Regions from separate parts of the Homo sapiens genome. Here regions 1 and 3 are each linked to region 2. Evidence: fine-mapped expression QTL. A gene starts in region 2. Each other region holds a variant in brackets. All regions are shown on one strand. Distances are from middle to middle.

Region 1 (5,318 bases), 39 kb after region 2:
CTCAGCCTCCTGCGTAGCTGGGACTACAGGCGCCCACCACCACACCCGGCTAATTTTTTGTATTTTTAGTGGAGACGGGGTTTCACCGTGTTAGCCAAGATGGTCTCGATCTCCTGACCTTGTGATCCACCTGTCTCGGCCTCCCAAAGTGCTGGGATTACAGGCGTGAGCCACCGCGCCCGGCCTAGTTTATATATTTTTTAATGCTTGGAAAAACTCAAAAGGCATGTTAAAATATGAAATTCAAATTTCAATGTCCATAAGTCAAATCTTTTTTGGACCACAGCCACAGTCATTCATTTTTGTCCTGTCTGTGGCTACACTCAAGCTATAGCAGCACAGCTGAGTTGTAACAGAGACTGTGTGGTCTGCAGAGCCTAAAATATTTACTATCTGGCTCGTTAGGGAAAATGTTTGCTGACCCCGGTCCATCTTAATGCCTAGATGTGTATTTCACCCATGTCCGTACAATAGCACTTAAAGATTTTCTTCCTAGATAGGACACACCCTTCTGAGGTACAGTGAACCCCACCCACAGGCTGAAAAAATAAACCAGTCAGATTGTGCCAGAACAGAGACTCAAGCCAGGTTTAATGATCATTGTCTAGTTTTCAGAGCCCAGAGGCTCCAAGATTTGCCAGCCTAGGTGTACACAAGTGGGAGGAATGGGGTCTTGGACACGGGAGGCCTGCTTGCTTTGTCAGCAGAGCTACGAGGAAGTACAGAGGTAAGAACACACAGAAAACTGGATCCATCTGCTTTGCTCTCCCCAGCTGGGGTGTACCCTCTCCTGGCCCCTTTCTTGGGCCCCATAAATACAAAATAATAATAATAATAATAATTACACAGATTGTAGAGCCCTGTCATCCTCTGTCTCCAGGGACACCTGCTTCCTGGGAGACATGTCTGGTTTATGGGTGTGGGGTAGGGTAAGAGGAGGTGGTGATCTCTCGGCCTTTTCTTATACCCACACCTGGCAGTTTTCAACACAGGGTTCTAGTGCGCTTACATATGCTGATTATTCAATTCTCCAATTAAAAAGCTACCTTTGGGTTCTATCACCTGAAACCACGGGAAGAAACAAATCAAATCTCTTGGTAGGGCAGCCAGGTACATCTACCAGGTGTCTCAAACTCAAGGCCAAACTAGTGGATATAGTCAGGAGACTTAAGAGCCACAGGGCCTTTTCTCATTCCCTAAACTGGGTAGGAATTATGAAGAAAACGGCCCTCCCAGTCCTCAGGAGCTCCATCACGATGCCCCAGAAGGCCTGCTTCATTTAACGCTCACTTTAAAGATCTTCAGAGCCCTAGATGGTGCCAAGCGGGGAGACTGCAGCATGGAGATGAGATTTTCCCAGATTTCCTGATGAGTCTGAGGAGGGAGTCCTAGTTCCTATAGCTCCAGTAACAAAATTCTCAGGAGTCTCTGGAATAAATCAAGACAACTTTTCTCTCCTGAGGACAGTTAACAGGAAGAGCAGCTCACAGCTACTTAGCCCCTTGCCAGTTTCCTTCTGAGTCCTTCAATGACCTAGTTCTATCTTAATTGCTCATATATTGCTCATATATATAGTCTTCACGGGAGGTTTCTGAGGAGTCCAAAGAACCAGGTAGCTCCTTACCACCTCTTCTCCCAAGGCCTTCAACCCATGGTTCTTCTAACTCCAGCCTGGGCAGAAAAGTGATTCAGTGCCATGGAGATGTGGGTGAAGCTTCAGGGAGTTCAGAAATGAAAATACAGGAGTGTGTATTTGAAGAGCCTGGCATGGTCACTGTCTCTCCTAAAGAGGAATACAATTGTGTGCATGAAGTTGTGCACATTGGTGGAGACCATTCTGAGAGTATCATTAATGGGGACTACAGATTCACTGTCCTGGTGGAAGTCAAGGTGCTGGTGTGCATGCATACCTATAAGCATGCATACCTATGAGCATGCAGGTACTTGAGGGAAATGCTGCACCTCTCTCTCAACAAAACTAGGTTACTAATAAAGGATGGACAGCAGTCTTGAGTTCCCAGGACCAGACAAGGGGAAGATGTTGAGTCCCCTTCCCCAATCATAATAGGAAGCTTAATAGTCAGGCCCTCCAAGCCCCTCACCCACAGGTAAATGACACCTCTTAGAATGTAAAAAGAGGTCAGAAATCTAGAGGATCTGGAGAACTTCCAATGGACTAGAAACGTGGGAGAGAAGAGACCCTAAGAAAAACCAACATCAGAGAACATTTTCACCTTCACCCTGCTCATCCCCCGCCAAAGCTCAGAGCAGCCACTCACAGGGCATGCAGTGTAGTCAAAGGGAAAGGTTAAAGGGATCGGTCATCTCCATACTCAAAGTATTCTGCAACCTTGGATGGAATGGAATGTTGAGCTCATTCTTCTTAAGTTCCTCTGGCCTCACAACCACAACTGCAAAGACCTCTCGATGGAGGAATGGGGTGGCAGAACTCCCCTTCTGAAAGTTTAGTACTACTGATTATCTCTGCTTCAGGATTGCCTGGAATCTGTGGAGAGGGCAGAACTTGAAGCTGCACTCCAAATTGCCATTCTGGGGTAGAGACCACCCAATTCCAACCCTTCTGATGTCAAAACCCCATGCTTTGACTTTGCAGCAGAGGTGGTATCTCTGAGAGGAGCAAGGCAACCTTGTCCACACAGAGGAGATATATACTGGATTTTCACTATCGCCAAGCCTACTCTAAGCCAGCTGGGGCCAGGCTTTCTTGGACTCCTCCCTTTACAGAGCAGCATATTAGGGAAAATTCAGAATCCCACCTGAGCTTGATAAGGAGACTGGATGAAGAGATGGCATACATTGAGAATCAGCTAGGTCCAGCTGGATGCTACATAATAGAGGCTGATTTACCTTCATCCTTCTATCGTGAAGTGGGCCCATGTACCACGTCTGTGGCAGGCATCCATAAAAGCTCTGCCTTCAGCAGCCCCCACTCTGGCCTGACACACA[G/C]ATGCTGGGAATCAAATACTAACCAAGGGTTTCACCAACCAGGGAATTAGCCTATCTGGAATTCACCCCCCATCTACAAGTTTCGTGCTGGCACCTATGCTGTGACATGGACCCTTCAGTTCATGCTATAACCCTCTGTGCCATTGGTCCCAGGACAAGGCACAGATACCACATCCCACATTGCTGTTGTAACTAAAAGGCAGCAGGCCAGGCTCCTGCAAAGATCCATCCACCCAGGGCACATCAGGAAAAAGGAAGGCTTTAATGCAAAGTCTTACAACAGCTTTGGGGAATTGTTACCGATTGAGGTCTCAGCCTTTTCCTGACTCATTTTCCAAAGGTTTTCAACTTCCCCAGCTGTGAAGTTTGACTTGCTAAACAAAGAAGATACTACAGCTTTTCCCCAGTGTGGCTCCTGTGGAAGCTCCCCCAACACACACAACATCACAGGTGTGGGTGGGCAGAGATAGAAAAAATTTTTTTTTCTAAATGTTTTTCTCTTAAGGAGCTAGGGATGACCTCATGAAAGTTTAGGGAATCTGTTCTTCCCCTCACTCCTTCCTCATTCCCATCCAACTCAGACATGCTTCTCTTCCTCTACCACACTGAGAATTGGCAGGGCTTTGGGTACGGGTGTAGCATTTGCCTGAGGATTAATATACCCCCATTTGAAAATCGTGGCAGCCACGCCCTGTTTGGGGTCTTGCTCTCTGTTGTACCTGGGACCAATTCCCTTGAGGTCAGGAGGAATCCATTCCCTTGGGCAGCCAGCCCTCTCTTCCATCCCCTCATATCCTTCAGGGGTGCATTACCTCTCCTGGGGCAGAATCTCCCCACCAACCCATCCTGCTCACACCACAATGGGCGTATCAGAGAAGACCGAGCTGACTGATTCTGGATCCGACATCCTCCGTTGGCCCTTGCCTGTGGCCTCAGGCACTGGCAGGGTGTTGCCTGGCTTGAGCTTGCCGTTTTGACCCTGCCCAGGTCCAGCAGGTTCCAGGAAAGCCACCCGCCGGTCAAAACCATCATCTTTGTCCCCACCAGCCATAGGATCATGGTTGGGTGTGGTACTAAGCATGGAAGAGCTGAGGCTGTCTCCTTGATGGCTGGAAGGCTTCTCTACACCCCGGCACCAGCAGCGGCAAGGGGTGAGGTATAGGTATATGAGGACCAGGACCACACTAAGGATACAGCCCACTAGGGTGGTATAGGCTGTGTTGAGGGTGTCATGGTGTCCGTGCAAGGTGAAATTGTGCACTTTCAATTCCACAGACAGTGTCTCATTGAAAGTCTCTCCCATGGCATAGCAGGTATACACACCACCGTCCTCGACCTGCACCTGCTGGAAAAGAAGACTGCCATCCTTAGACACACTCACTGTGCCATTGGTCACCTCATCTAGCACCCGTTCATTACTTGGTGTCACCCACACCTTGGTCATCCCTTGCTGCTTGGTGTCACACTTGATGATCAAGGTGTCACCCAGGTGGGCCTCCCAGGCACGCTCCTTGTACTCGCCACAGTTGAGGAAACTCAGGTTGAAGACATTGTGCAGCTTCTTGGAGTTCATGCAGTACAGATCCTCTTGAAAGTCCATCACGGAGCTCAGCTGCCGATACTGCCAGTGTGAAAACAGCTGGTAGAGCTCACAGTCGCAGTTCAGGGGGTTGTTATGTAGGTACAGCCCATTCTTGATCCAGGCCGGCAGCTTCTGCAGGTCAGGCAATGGCAAGTTCTTCAGCTTGTTAGAAGAGAGATCCAGGAGCGTTAGTTTGGGTAGCTTGGCTCCTTCCTTGACCAGTTCCAGAGGGAAGCGAGAGATCTGGTTCTGGCTCAAGTAGAGTTTCTGCAGCTGGGCCATGTCATCGAAGGCGCACCGGTCCACCGCCATGATGTGGTTATTGTAGAGCAGCAGCACCTCCAGTACTTGCAGGTCACTGAACAGGAACTCATCCAGTGTACGCAGCTGGTTGGAGGAGAGGTCCAGGTAGCGCAGGTTGGGTACCGGGGAAAAGGCCTCAGAGGAGATGAAGTTCAGGTGGTTGTGGCTCAGCAGCAGGGAGTGCAGTTGGGTCAGGCGCGTGGGGGTCCACTCGGCCCGCAGGCGGCTCAGGTTGTTGTGACTGAGGTCCAGTAGTGCTGTGTAACTGGGCAAGGAATGGGGCACATTGGGCAGCTGCTGCTTGGAGCAGCTGAGGATGTTGCTGGCGCACAAGCAGGCGGCAGGACAGCTAACCACGGCTCGGCCAGCTCTGGCCACCTCAAAAAGCAGCAGGGACAAGGACGGCAGCAGGAGCCAGAGGCCTCTCGGGTCACGGTGGGGGTGCATAGTGTCACTGGAGTGGGCG
Region 2 (6,272 bases):
AGTGCAGCGCTGTTTGTAAGAGAGAATCTTTGGAAACAACCTAAATGCCCATCAATATGAGAATAAATAGACTGCAGTATGCGTATGTATGTAATAGAATTCTATATAGCTAAAAGGAATGAACTAAAGCTACAGGCATCAGGCTAGATGACTCTCACAAACACAACATTAAGTAAAAAAGTGAGTTGAAGAAGGTTACCTAAAGCATGATACCATTTAGATAAAGTTTAAAGCAATTTGAAAAACAATACTACATCTGATGGGTTTCTAGGTATTGCTCCTATAGTTATATACATAGAAAAAGTAGTAAACCATGCATGAGACTGATAAAAAAACAAATTCAGAATTGGATAATGGATATTTCTGGGGAGGAAGGAGGGAGGGAGTGACATGAGGTGATATACAGGTTTTCAATTTTATGCATTTTTTTCTTTTTTAAAGAATGGATTTAAAGAAAATAATGGATTTGAGACAAAAAAGAGTTAAAGATTAACAAGGCTGGTTGGTGTGTAAGTGGATTTTTGTTGTGTTATTCTGATTCTTTTTTGATTGTGTTGTATTCTGTATGTATATTGTTGAAGACATTGGTAATGTGTATGTTTTTGTGTTTGTGTAGTGTGGCATTCACATATATCACACTATTTAATTTTTATGACAGCTTCGTGAAGTGAGTGGAACATAAATTATTATCCCTATTCCATAGAACAGGAACCTAAGACGGCAGAACAATTTTTAAACTGTGGACTGGGGACTGGGCTAAGCTGTTCCTTGCTTAGTCTAGATTTGCATGGAAATCCACTGGAGAAGTTTCCTTCAAGTCCATGTGGCCTGATCCAGCCCGAGCTGCCTTCCTCACGTCTCTCTCTAAATCCCAAGGCTCTGGGAAGGCACTTACTCAATAGGGAAGCGACTTGTATAGATAATAGCCAAATGTTTGTTCAAAAGGCATTCATTCTGATGTGCTGGGGGGAGCGGTTGGGGGGGCGGACCTGCAGGAATGACTTGGATGAGACGGATACATATTTACAAGCCAGTGCACAGGAATTTGTCCTTGGACAAATCACTTAACCTTTTACTACTTATATTTATGCTCTCGTAAACCAAGTGTGGAATATTCTCAACTGCTCACCCCTGCCAAATGCTTTTCAAAAGTTAGAGACCAAGTTACAGTTAAAAAAATGCAACGACTTCAACCCAACCAGTCCCTTCCCTTCCCTTCTTCCCTTCCCTTCCCGTTCTTTTTCTTTCTTTTTTTTTCCTCTCTCTCTCTCCCCACTTCTGTCTGCCTTTTTTCTTTTTCTTTTTTTCTTTTTTTTGACACAGTCTTGCTCTGTTGTCCAGGCTGGAGTGCAGTGGTGCAATCTCGGCTCACTGCAACCTCCGCCTCCCGGGTTCAAGTAATTCTCGTGCCTTACCCTTCGGAGTAGCTAGGAGTACAGGCACGTGCCACCACGCCCTGCTAATTTTTGTATTTTTAATAGAGACAGGGTTTCACCATGTTGGCCAGGCTGGTCTCGAACTCCTGGCTTCAAGTGATACACCCGCCTCCGCCTCCCAAAGTGCTGGGATTACAGGCTTGAGCCACCGCGCCTAGCCAGACGTCAACTTTTCAGTACGTTTCAATATATTCTTTGCGCCTCATTCCTCAAAGACCTTTTTTCACTCTCATTTAAATGGTAATGACCATTTTAAAGGAGATTAAGTTTCTACTTGTTAAAGATTAATAACTTTTTTTTTGGAGACAGAGTCTTGGACTGTCGCCAGGGCTGGAGTGCAATGGCGCGATCTCGGCTCACTGCAACTTCCACCTCCCGGGTTCAAGCAATTCTCCTGCCTCAGCCTCCTGAGTAGCTGGGATTACAGGCGCACATCACCACACCCGGCTAATTTTTTGTATTTTTAGTAGAGACGGGGTTTCACTATGTTGGCCAGACTGGTCTCGAACTCCTGACCTCGTGATCTTCTGGCCTCGGCCTCCCAAAGTGCTGGGATTGCAGGCGTGAGCCACCAAGCCTGGCCAATAACTTTTAAATCACTAACATACAAATGTCTTTTGTTGTTTTAAAAAAAAATCAAAACAATACCTAGCTAGACAGGATAAAAAATCAGCAGCTTATATTCTATCGCCCTTTTGTCGGTACTGGCGGTATGTTAATCGTGAGGCTTAGAACCTTGTTTCACAGCCCTGATCGTGCCTTTTGAGAATCTTTTACGTTCTGGATATTCTGGTATGGAAGAGGAGAAAAACCGGCGCTGGGCAGTTTGCAATCCAGGAAAATAGGGAAGGATAAACCTGAAGCCTGTGCGTCCAGGTGCGCCTGGCTAGGGTTTCCGACGGCCGCGGTGTCTCGGTGGGGACCGGTCCCGGAGGCTTCGGCGAGGAGGACCCGGAGTCCCCCCCGCCCCGCGGCGGAACTAACCACGGAGGCCTCTGGTCCCTTTAAGGTGCCCGGCGAGCGGAGAAAGGGAGCAGAGGGGGCGGGAGGAGGGTTCGGGAGCGCACGCCACGTGACCCGGCGGCCAAGTTCGCTGCGAGTTTGACAGAAGTTTGAATCCGAGTCGGGGGCTTTCTGCTGCCGGCGGGGCACCGCGGCGGCCGCAGCCTCTGAGAGCACGAACAGCAGCGCCCCCGCGTCCCAGCCAGCCAGCCAGCCAGACTGGACTCCGGCCCACCGACGGCCGCTCGCGCTCCGGCCCCGCTCGCCTGCTCTGCCCCGGACCTGCAGCTCCCCGCTCCCCCGCCGTGTCCGCCGCCTCCCGGCCAGAGAGCCAAGCCACCACGCCGCGCCCAGCGCTCGCCGCGCCAGCATGTCCTCGACCGAGAGCGCCGGCCGCACGGCGGACAAGTCGCCGCGCCAGCAGGTAGTCCCTGCGCGCCCAGGACTCTCACCCGCCCCTCTCCACCTAGATGTCGGGCTGCACACTTATCCCACCCCTGGACCGCGTGTGAGTGGGGCAAGGGGACCAGCGCCTTCCCAGGGTTCCCCACCGCCCTGACCCCCCGGCCGGCTGTGTCTCCGCAGGTGGACCGCCTACTCGTGGGGCTGCGCTGGCGGCGGCTGGAGGAGCCGCTGGGCTTCATCAAAGTTCTCCAGTGGGTGAGTCGCTGCCCCGGCCCCGGGCTATTTCGGGAGCCTGGGCTGTGACGCTGACCTGAAGCAATGGAGCCAGGGTGGGGGCTGGGGAGGTGCTGCGGCCGGGCCACGGCGGAAGGGTGGGGGGCGGCGACAGGTGGGCGGGGGAGGGGCGGGCTGGGGCTGCTTCTCCGGACTTAGTGGCAGGAGGGTGAAGAGCGAGGCATGCGGAGTCCCGGATTCGGTCCTTCTATGTGCAAGGAGCCTTTGCCCAGGGCGCTCACATTTCACCCGGGCGAGAGGACCCGGGTGTAACCTTTCCAGAACTCTGATCCTGCACATACCACTCCTTGGTGACGGGAGGGGGGAGAAGGACGACGGGGACGAGGTCCGCTCTTCACCAAGAGGGAAGCCGCAGAGGGCAAAGGAGGGAAGGAAGCAGGCGATGGAAACCGTCCTGCCCCCAAACCCACCAGGGCCTGGATGATCCTGCAAGTACTGGGCTCAGGGGACAGGCTCTCGGCTCGCCGTTCCCTTTTGAGGTCACTGGAGTAATCCGAGTTCCTGTAAATGAGTGAGGGAGTGGATGAATGAATGAACGGAGCTTGTGGTTCTATGATTAAATAAAAGAAAAAAATAAGAATAAAAATCACGGCATGGCTAAAATGTGGCATGTAGAATAAAATGGAACACTGATCTGAGAAGCTGGGGCCCTGGGATCCAGACCTAGACTGGCCTTTTCCAGCTATGTCACCTTGGGCAATTCATTTCTCTGGACTTCAATTTCCAACACTAGTTAGATGTTGATCAGAACCTTCCTAGGGTCTCCTTATGCTCTAAATAGTTTGGTGTGCCAGAATATGGCCCTAGGTTAGACTTACTTTGTGACCTTGAAAAAGTCACTTGCTCAGGTCCTCAGTTTCCCCTGTTACAGTCTAGTGGAAATACTATCTTGCTTCACTAGGCCAGTGCCTAAGGCCTCCTGGGTATAAATTAGGAATGTGGACAGGTGCAGTCAATTTCTCAAATCATAAAGACTTGTAGGGGGCATTTAGTGCACTATTGCAGAAGAGATTTTAAATTAGACAATCCACATACCAAATGGTGTGTGAATAACTTAATTAATGTGCTCTCAGTACAGAATTCAGCTAGGGAATAAGTTACCATTAATACTGAGGAGGATTGAGTTCTACAGGGCTTTGGAGACAAGAATTAGCACTGTGACACCAGTTCTTAAATCATGGTTTGGATGAGAATAATCAAATCTGGAACCCAGGGGCAAAAGTGCATTTGGGATTATCGGGCCAGCCTGGGAGCTCCCAAGTGCAAACTCTGGGACCTGGTGGGGACTCTCCACCTTTCTTACTGCCTCAAGAGTGGTTAGACCAATTGCTGATTGAGCTCTTTTGCCTTTGGCCCCTTCCCTGTTCTGATCCACCACTCAAGTGCCAGAGGGAGCCATATAAAAATGATATTAAGGCTCTGAGTGACTGGCATCCAGAACTGGAAGAGCCATTATAAGCAATTTTACCATTAAATTAGACAAATGGATCCAACAGAATTTGAGACAGACTGTCAAAGGATAAGGGAAACAATGAGGTTATTAGACCATGGACTCCTCTCCCTTGGAGGGATTCTGAAAAGCTTCCTTCTTCAATCCTGCCATCCTTCCCTCCACGCAGCACTCCAAATACCCACAACATTTCTGTAAAGGCTGTACAAAGCAATGCCCAGGGAAATGATGCAGTCTTGGGGTCAGCACTAATGACCTAGGAATTAAGATCTGATAGACTTTTATGATCTTCAAGTACTTAGAAAGGGGGTTGTGCAAAACAGAGACCCTTTTCTCTCAGAATGCTAAAACCTGGGCCCTGGGCTAGACTCTGAATTCAGATTTCATTCACAGGGTAGCATCACAAAGAAACGTGCTTTGCTTTTATTGCCATCCCAGGTAGCCTGAATTCAGGGCGCCAGTTTCACTTGCTTTGAAGCTCTGCAGATGAGGTAACATAAAAAGTAAACAGGCATTAGCACCAGAAATGACAGTGGAAATGTCATTTGAGTTTTTCACTCATTTCCTGTTTGGAGGGATCAAATGCTCCTGATTGGAGAAGGAAAAAAGAAAACACAAAGCTTGCAGTTATTGTAATGGTAATTGAGAACTTTTGTTGTCATTATTACCAAAAAGCAAAGATTTTACTGGAATCTTTGTGAAAAGAAAGTAATGTTATTCTTTTATTTGTCAGGAGCTTATCTTAGAGTTTTTTTTTTTTTAATTGAGAAATCAACTAATCTCACCTCAATTCCAATTCTGGAGTCTCACTAAGTCTATACTAAGCTAGCAAAAATAACCTGGACATAGACCAATTATTGGAGAACTAGTTTTTTTTTAAAAAAGAAAAGGACATCAAATCATAGGAGTTCAAGATAAAAAAGAAAAGAAAAGAAGTATCTTAAAAAAAATTTTCTTTTTAAGAAAAAGACACACTTTGGGAGGCTGAGGTGGGAGGATTGCTTGAGCCCAGGAGTTTGACACAAGCCTGGGCAATAAGGGGAGGTCGCGTCTCTATTAAAAAATAAAATTAGTTGGGTGTGATGACACATGCTTGTGGTCCCAGCTCCTTGGGAGGCTGAGGCTGGAGGATCATTGAGCCCAGGAGGTCGAGGCTGCAATGAGCTGCGCACTCCAGCCTGAGTGACAGAACTAGACCTTGTCTCAAAAAAAAAAAAAAAAAAAAAAAAAGGAAAATAAAACAAAAGAAAAAGGAAGATAGAGACAGATTTTTGAGGTCAGATAGGCTTCGGTTTAAATTGAGTCCCCTCTGCTTTCTTGCTTTCTAGCTCTGGAACCTTGAGTGAGTAAATATCAAATCTTTTTTTTTTTTCAGACAGGCTCTAAGATAGAGACTGGCTCTATCGCTGAGGCTGGAGTGCAGTGGTACGAACACATCTCACTGCAGCCTAAATTTCCAAGCTCAGGCAATCCTCCCACCTCAGCCTTTCAAGTATCTGGGACCAAAGGCACATGCCACCATGCCTAGCTAAGTTGTAAAAAATTTTTGTAAAAATCGGGTCTTGCTATGCTGCCCCAGCTGGCTTTGAGTTCCTGGGCTCAGGTGATATTCCCACCTCAGCCTCCAAAAGTGCTGAGATTACAGGCATGAGCCTGTTACCTCGCCTAAACAAAACAAAAAACAA
Region 3 (6,488 bases), 98 kb before region 2:
GGAAGAGAGGTTAGGCTAATCCATTTCAGAGCTTGAACATGGGTTCACTCCCACTTGGGCCAAGAACAGCAGTCAAATAAAGAACCTTGAGAAAGTACCATTACTCCTGGGAGATACCCTGACCCTAGGGTAGTTTCTATATCATCTGCTGGTATGTCATTACTTCTTTAGGTCTCTAGGGGAAAATGAGACAGACATAAATGATTGAGAAGACACAATCATTCAGCAATCTCTAGGAGTTAGTTGGTCTTGAATCTTACTGCTAAGGAACGGAACCTACTTTTTAACCAAGTCATACCTTTGAGAAGACAACTCTAAAACTTCACCAATGTCACAGTATAGGTTGTGGTTCCAGAACACATGTTACCACCATCATCGCCAGTGTGAACACTACAAAGCACTTTGGTAGGTCCGACCTGAGAGCCTCCTTCTTACCTAAAAATAATCTGCTTAGGCCTCAAAATGCTGTATAAATATTTGCTGGGAAAGTACAATGAAGATTTTCATTTCAGGAATATAAAAAACCATTTTGTACTCACACTAAATAGAAAGACTTTTTAAACCCCATACTACCTTCCCACAAATAAATATCCATATAAATGAACACAAACACACAGCACTATACACTCTTTCTTCATCTTCCTTTATTGTTCTGCCCCTGAGTCAGGTCAAACCAACCTCCTTGGAACCAGGTCCCTTTTCATACTTCTTTCAGTTGCTAATTAGATGCTAAGGCCAGGCATGGTGGCTCACACCTGTAATCCTAGCACTTTGGGAGGCTGAGGTGGGAAGACAGCTTGAGCCCAGGCGCTCGATACCAGACTGGGCAACATGGTGAAACCCTGTCTATCCAAAATACAAAAATTACCCAGGCATGGAGGTACGTGCCTGTAATGCCAGCCACTTGGGAGGCTGAGGTGGGAAGATGGTGGATGGCTTGAGCCTGGGAGGGAGAGGTTGCAATGAGCTGTGTTTGCGCCACTGCTCTCCAGCCTGAGTGACAGAGCTAGACCCTGCTCAAAAAAAAAAAAAGAGTAGACGTTAAAAAGTGTGCTAAGGGCCGGGTGCAGTGGCTCCCGCCTATAATCCCAGCACTTTTGGAGGCAGGTGGATCATTCGAACCCAGGAGCTCAATACAAGCCTAGGCAACATGGGGAAACCCTGTCTCTACAAAAAATACAAAAAATTAGCTGGGCATGGTAGCGTGTGCCTGCAGTCCCAGCTACCTGGGAGGCTGAAGTGGGAGGATGGCTTGAGCCTGGGAGGTGGAGGCTGCAGTGAGCCAAGATGACGCCACTGCACTCCAGCCTGGGTGACAAGAGTGAGACCCTGTCTCAAAAAACAACAACAACAACAACAACAAAAACATGTGCTGAGTGTGACAGTCTGGTGAAAACTTAGGATGGCTAGAAGATCTTTTACATCAACTGTTACGTGCCATCATGTCTAGAAAAGGGAGAATCTATATTCTCAATGTTACTTAGTGAAATGCTCCAACGCGTGTTATTGATCTCACCTTCGATATAGCTTGGACTGTCCAAAAGTCATAATTACCAGTGGTACATGGAAGGTAGTCAAGACTAGAATGACCTGGAGAGAGAAAAAAGCATTCCGTAAATAAAAAAGATATTCCAATCACATGCTGATATGTGTTCGAGATTAAGCCAACACCTAAAAGACTTTTGATATCCCTACTTTGTAGTACTCCCCAAAGTCTAGAAGGATCTAGTTACTAGGGCTGAGAATGATGAGAAAGTCCTCAGCTCATTTTGTTGGGATGATCCCCATTGCCTCCATTGAAGCAGTGAGGCTGACTACTCAAATACACATTAAAATAAAAGAAGGCTTTAACTATTTTGTATCCAAATTATTGTAAGATACTCTCAGGCAAGAACCCTCTTCCCTTTTCTCCTTACAGAGTCTAGAATAGCGTGGGTGTTCTCACAGAGATCACTGTGTCATGTATGTCTGTCTTTTTCTTCTCCTTGCCGTTGGTTCTTCATGAAATTCATTTTTTCAGTACCTTATCTACCAAAAACTATGCATGAGGAAATGATTCTGGATGGATTACTATAAGAGTCTAGGGAGTCTCAGAAAGCCATATGAGAAATCTTGGAGATGGCTGGGCACGGTGGCTCACGCCTGTAATCACAGCACTTTGGGAGGCTGAGGCGGACGGATCACTTGAGGTCAGAAGTTCGAGACTAGCCTGGCTAACATGGTGAAACCCCATCTCTACTTAAAATACAAAAATTAGCCGGGCGTGGTGGTGCTTGCCTGTAGTCCCAGCTTCTTGGGAGGCTGAGGCATGAGAATTGCTTGAACCTGGGAGGTGGACGTTGCTGTGAGCCAAGATTGCACCACTGCTCTCCAGCCTGGGTGACAGAGCAAGACTCTGTCTCAAAAAAAAAAAAAAAAAAAAAAATTCTTGGAGATACCAACTATCTAAGATAAATGGGTAAATCATGGAAATTAGGGTACAACTCAAATTTTAGAAAAAACTGAACTATGCTTAAAGAAATTCTACTGAAAGTTTAAAAATTAATCAAAATAAGAAATTTACAATTTGCTTTTCAGCACCAAGATTTTATTTCTTTAGGCTTCTAATATAACTATCATGTGCCTCAATGCTATGACACATGCATTATGGAATACCAGGGGGCAGGAGATGTTGCCCCTGCTCTTGTTCAAGCAGGATAATAAGACAGCCAGGCAACAAGTCCTGATTTAAGACCAGGGGCCAATGTATCCTCAGCGTGTCCTCCTAGTGGGAGCCCAGCTGTATATCAGGAGGGATAAGGAGCTGACTGATCCTCCTTCCATTCCCCCAATCCTGGCAGTACCTCCTTTGTGGCAGGGGCAGGGACCAACAGATGAACAACCATGAGCCCATGGGCACCACAGTCCCTCAACACACCTGTAGGAAAGGACACAGGAACAATACAATTTGGAGGAAAAGTGCCAGGATGTTTTTAATGGACATTTTCTGTTTCTATATAGGGGTTTCCCCAAGCATTGTGCGCTTCCCTTCTCAGTACAGAGCACTTTCATCTTTCTTCTTGCTCATCTTGATGCTAAGCAGCCACCAAGGACTGAAAAGGTGTCCATCTTCCCACCGTGGAAGAAGGTGGTCAGAAGATGTTCCCGGCCAGGCGCAGTGGCTCATGCCTGTAATCCCAGCACTTTTGGGAGGCTGAGGCGCGTGGATCACCTGAGGTCAGGCGTTCAAGACCAGCCTGGCCAACATGGTGAAACCTCATCTTCACTAAAAATACAAAAAATCAGCTGTGCATGGTGGTGGGTGCCTGTAATCCCAGCTCCTTGGGAGGCTGAGGCAGGAGAATCGCTTGAACCCGGGAGGTGGAGGTTGCAGTGAGCTGAGATCATGCCATCGCACTCCAACTTGGGCAACAAGAGCGAAACTCCGTCCCCACCCCCCCGCAAAAAAGATGTTCCCAATTCTAAAGCAAAACCAACACAACTACAACTTCCTGAAAGTCTGTCTTGCAAACATGTGTTTTCTGTGATTGAGGCTAA[A/G]GACAGTTTCAGGAAGAAATGATATTAGGTGCTTAACCCTTCCCCAAATCTGTTATCATCTTCTTGCTGGGCTGAAATAACAGACTCAAAATATGACTTACCCCAGTGCTATCTCCAACCCAGGACAAGGATACTGAGCCTCTGAGATCATCAAACACATGCTATAAGGGGAAAAAAAATTAATTTAGAAATGACAGCCACTCTCCTTCAATCTTTGGCTTCTTTAAATATCTGAACTTTATTACTGTTCAGAGTAATTAAGTTCATAATTACAAAGTGGGTATGGATTCCCAGTACAAAATTTGGGAGGGATGGGATTTAACTACTTAATGTGAATCACAAATAACTTGGAAATTTAAATTCTCTCTAACACAAAGTAAGCCAAGCAGATGAGTTTTCTTTACTGCACCAGATGGGGAGATGGGAGATGGGACAATCTAATTGCTTTCTCCAACAGAACTAAATATAAAGGTATAGCAAAGTATTTTTAGGATGCTTTAAAACAAAAGATCATAGCCCACACTGGCAGGCGTAATTGTAACCAAATCAACATAATTTAAATTTTTCTGGGCATCCTTTACAGTATAGCTGAAAAGTTCGTAACTGGATTCCTTTTACTTCTAGTCTAGCTCACTCAAAAATGACAACGGGCAGAAGCAAGAAGCAAATGCCTTTGTTTCACCTTTTTATTTAATAACAATAGTAATAATGATAATAATAAAACAACCTTACTAGAGTTGCAGTGAGAGTAAGGAGGTAAAAAAGGGAAAGCTGGTATATTATATCCAAAATATAGTAAGCATGTTAAAATATAGTTATAATAATCATTGTAGGTGGTTTTGGGTTTTGTTTTTCAAATACTTCCTTTCTCTACTTATACAATAATATATATTCATTAAAGAAGATGTAGACAATTATAAGAACGCATAATAAAGATAAGTCACTCATAATCCTACCACATAGAGATATTCAAGGTTAATATTATATGTATTAATACAATCGTCTGTTCTCTATAATTTTTGTAACTGATAAAAAAAATAAAAATTCCAAAGAGGTAATAACTGCACTTGGCAAAAATTTCAAACCATATAGAAATTACATACTATATAGAGTCTATATAGCAAAGAGTGAAGATCCTTCTCTTTTCCAGGCCACATGCTCACCACCCAAGCCCCATTTCTTAGACAGTTTAATAGTTCAGTATATATTTCTAATAAATGTGGATGATTATGCTTTTTTCTTAAGACTTATAATCTTACTAAGATTTTAAAATCTTAAACATGCCTTGCCCTCCCAGATATGAGAAGCTCCTTGGAAGCTGGGGAATGTAACTTTATACTTCTTGGTACTCCCTGTGCCTTCCACAGGAATACTTTGCACACTCAGTAAGCATTTGTTGAAAATGATTACACATCCTCCCCAAACCACAAACTCAACCTCAAAATAGAACATGTCTATAAATGGTTGGGATGCCAGCTACTTGGTCACTCAAGCCACCAATCCCACATAGAAATCTAAAGAAACAGAACTCAAAACATGAACTGTTTTGTTTATCTTCGAATTTTCTCTTGCAGTCTTGAATGGGCTTCCGAATTCACGTATGTGATTTCCCCTCTGGACCGTAAGTACCTTTGATGTCAAAAGAATCTCTTACACAATTTTTGTAAGTTAGTACAATCAGTGCCTCACGCAGGTCTTGCTCCGTAAATAATGGTTAACTCTCAAATGCTCGGCAGAGCTTCTCACAGCCTCTGCAGGAAAGAAGGGCTATTCAGACATGCAGGCTTGCCAGGCATCTGAGAAAAAGTAGGGCTGCCAGAGCTTCTGAAACCAGAGGCTTAAAAACTGACATAGCAGTGTGTCTTATATGATATTTCACACATAGCAAAACCTCACATTCTCTTGAGTGAGGATAGTGTCTGAAATGACATCAATGAGGTCCTTCAGGAAAAACAGGAACATCCAGAGCTACCACAAGCACCAGGCAGATCACAAGGGCTAAGATCACAGTCATCTAAACACAGGTTATCTTTCCAAGGAAGGTCCTTGTCATAACTAAGAGAAAAGAAAAAGTCCATCAGTTATGGCACTGGAATTCGTGGTTGTCTTCATCAGGCTGTAAGATATCAGTCTTGAGCCAATCAGGACTGCAACTTTTACTTTTCAGGCAATGCTCTACACAGCCGACCCAGTCAATGCAGACTGGCATTACCCACATTTTCCTATTGCTCAACTACAGAATGAGGAGGATTATCACGTGTCACCGGCAACTCTCAGCTTCACTGAAACAACTGAAATGGTAATGGACCTCACTCATCATCCAAAGAGTTCCTTTGGAAATGTAGGCCAGATTTACTAGCAAAACTGTGGTTTTCTACTGCCCTTAAGCTGTCCCTCCCACCCACTCCAAATAACCAATGAAGATTTGCTTTTGAAAATGGGCAAACTCACTGAAAAACTCATCTACCTATAGCAAATGTAATTAATTTTTTAATATTTCAGTCTCTAACATTCTTATACTGGTGAAAGTTAAAAAAGAAAAATGAAATGAGATGTTACAGCAGGCCCAAAGGTTAAGCAGAAAGAAAAGGTCATATGGAAAGGAGATAAATCCAGGAGAGCTAGGGACCCAAGAGTACAGATTCAATCCTGCCACTTCAATGGGAGAAAAAAATACGGATGTCCAGGAAAGGGCAGACAACCTGGTCATGGTTAGGAGACAGAATTCACAAGTCAGCACAAAGCCATCAATCCTAATCCAGAATCATTTCTAATATTTAAGACAACGTACATGTCATTCTACACTGCAGTGGCATCTTAGATCTTTCAAAATATGTATTACAGCACTTTTAATTGTAGCCACAAGAACCTTGCCTGTCCTCCCCACTAGACCTGAGGTCCATCTGGTAAAGGAATCAAGCCCATACATTTCAGCAGCTAACACACAGCAT

Direction of the effects. Positions count from the first base shown, and alleles are read on the strand shown. Sizes are in standard deviations (SD) of each study's normalised expression.
In carriers of allele G in region 1, the expression in tibial nerve of the gene that starts at base 2,511 in region 2 tends to be higher than with C alone (small effect, 0.30 SD a copy in GTEx).
As copies of G replace A in region 3, the expression in thyroid of the gene that starts at base 2,511 in region 2 goes down (moderate effect, 0.48 SD a copy in GTEx).

Evidence for each region. PIP is the estimated chance that this variant, and not a neighbour inherited with it, causes the effect. A credible set is the group of variants that fine-mapping cannot tell apart.
Region 1: its variant is the best candidate, but not a certain one, in a credible set for the expression of SYPL2 in tibial nerve (GTEx, PIP 0.74).
Region 3: its variant is the best candidate, but not a certain one, in a credible set for the expression of SYPL2 in thyroid (GTEx, PIP 0.86).

What each region holds. Positions count from the first base shown.
Region 1 is chr1:109,503,614-109,508,931 of GRCh38, forward strand. AMIGO1 (adhesion molecule with Ig like domain 1) reads right to left here. Exons shown (of 2, transcript NM_020703.4): 2 at 565-5,318. The coding sequence starts at 5,299. The coding sequence ends at 3,818. Among named protein-coding and RNA genes, the nearest start is that of AMIGO1, 3.5 kb to the right of the region's middle. The variant G/C (reference allele first, on the strand shown) is at 2,968.
Region 2 is chr1:109,464,036-109,470,307 of GRCh38, forward strand. It overlaps SYPL2 (synaptophysin like 2), which reads left to right and starts at 2,511. Exons shown (of 6, transcript NM_001040709.2): 1 at 2,511-2,862; 2 at 3,024-3,098. The coding sequence starts at 2,809. RefSeq lists enhancers at 1,942-2,443, 2,444-2,943.
Region 3 is chr1:109,365,892-109,372,379 of GRCh38, forward strand. SORT1 (sortilin 1) reads right to left here. Exons shown (of 20, transcript NM_002959.7): 2 at 3,639-3,698; 3 at 1,517-1,590. Among named protein-coding and RNA genes, the nearest start is that of SORT1, 29 kb to the right of the region's middle. The variant A/G (reference allele first, on the strand shown) is at 3,538.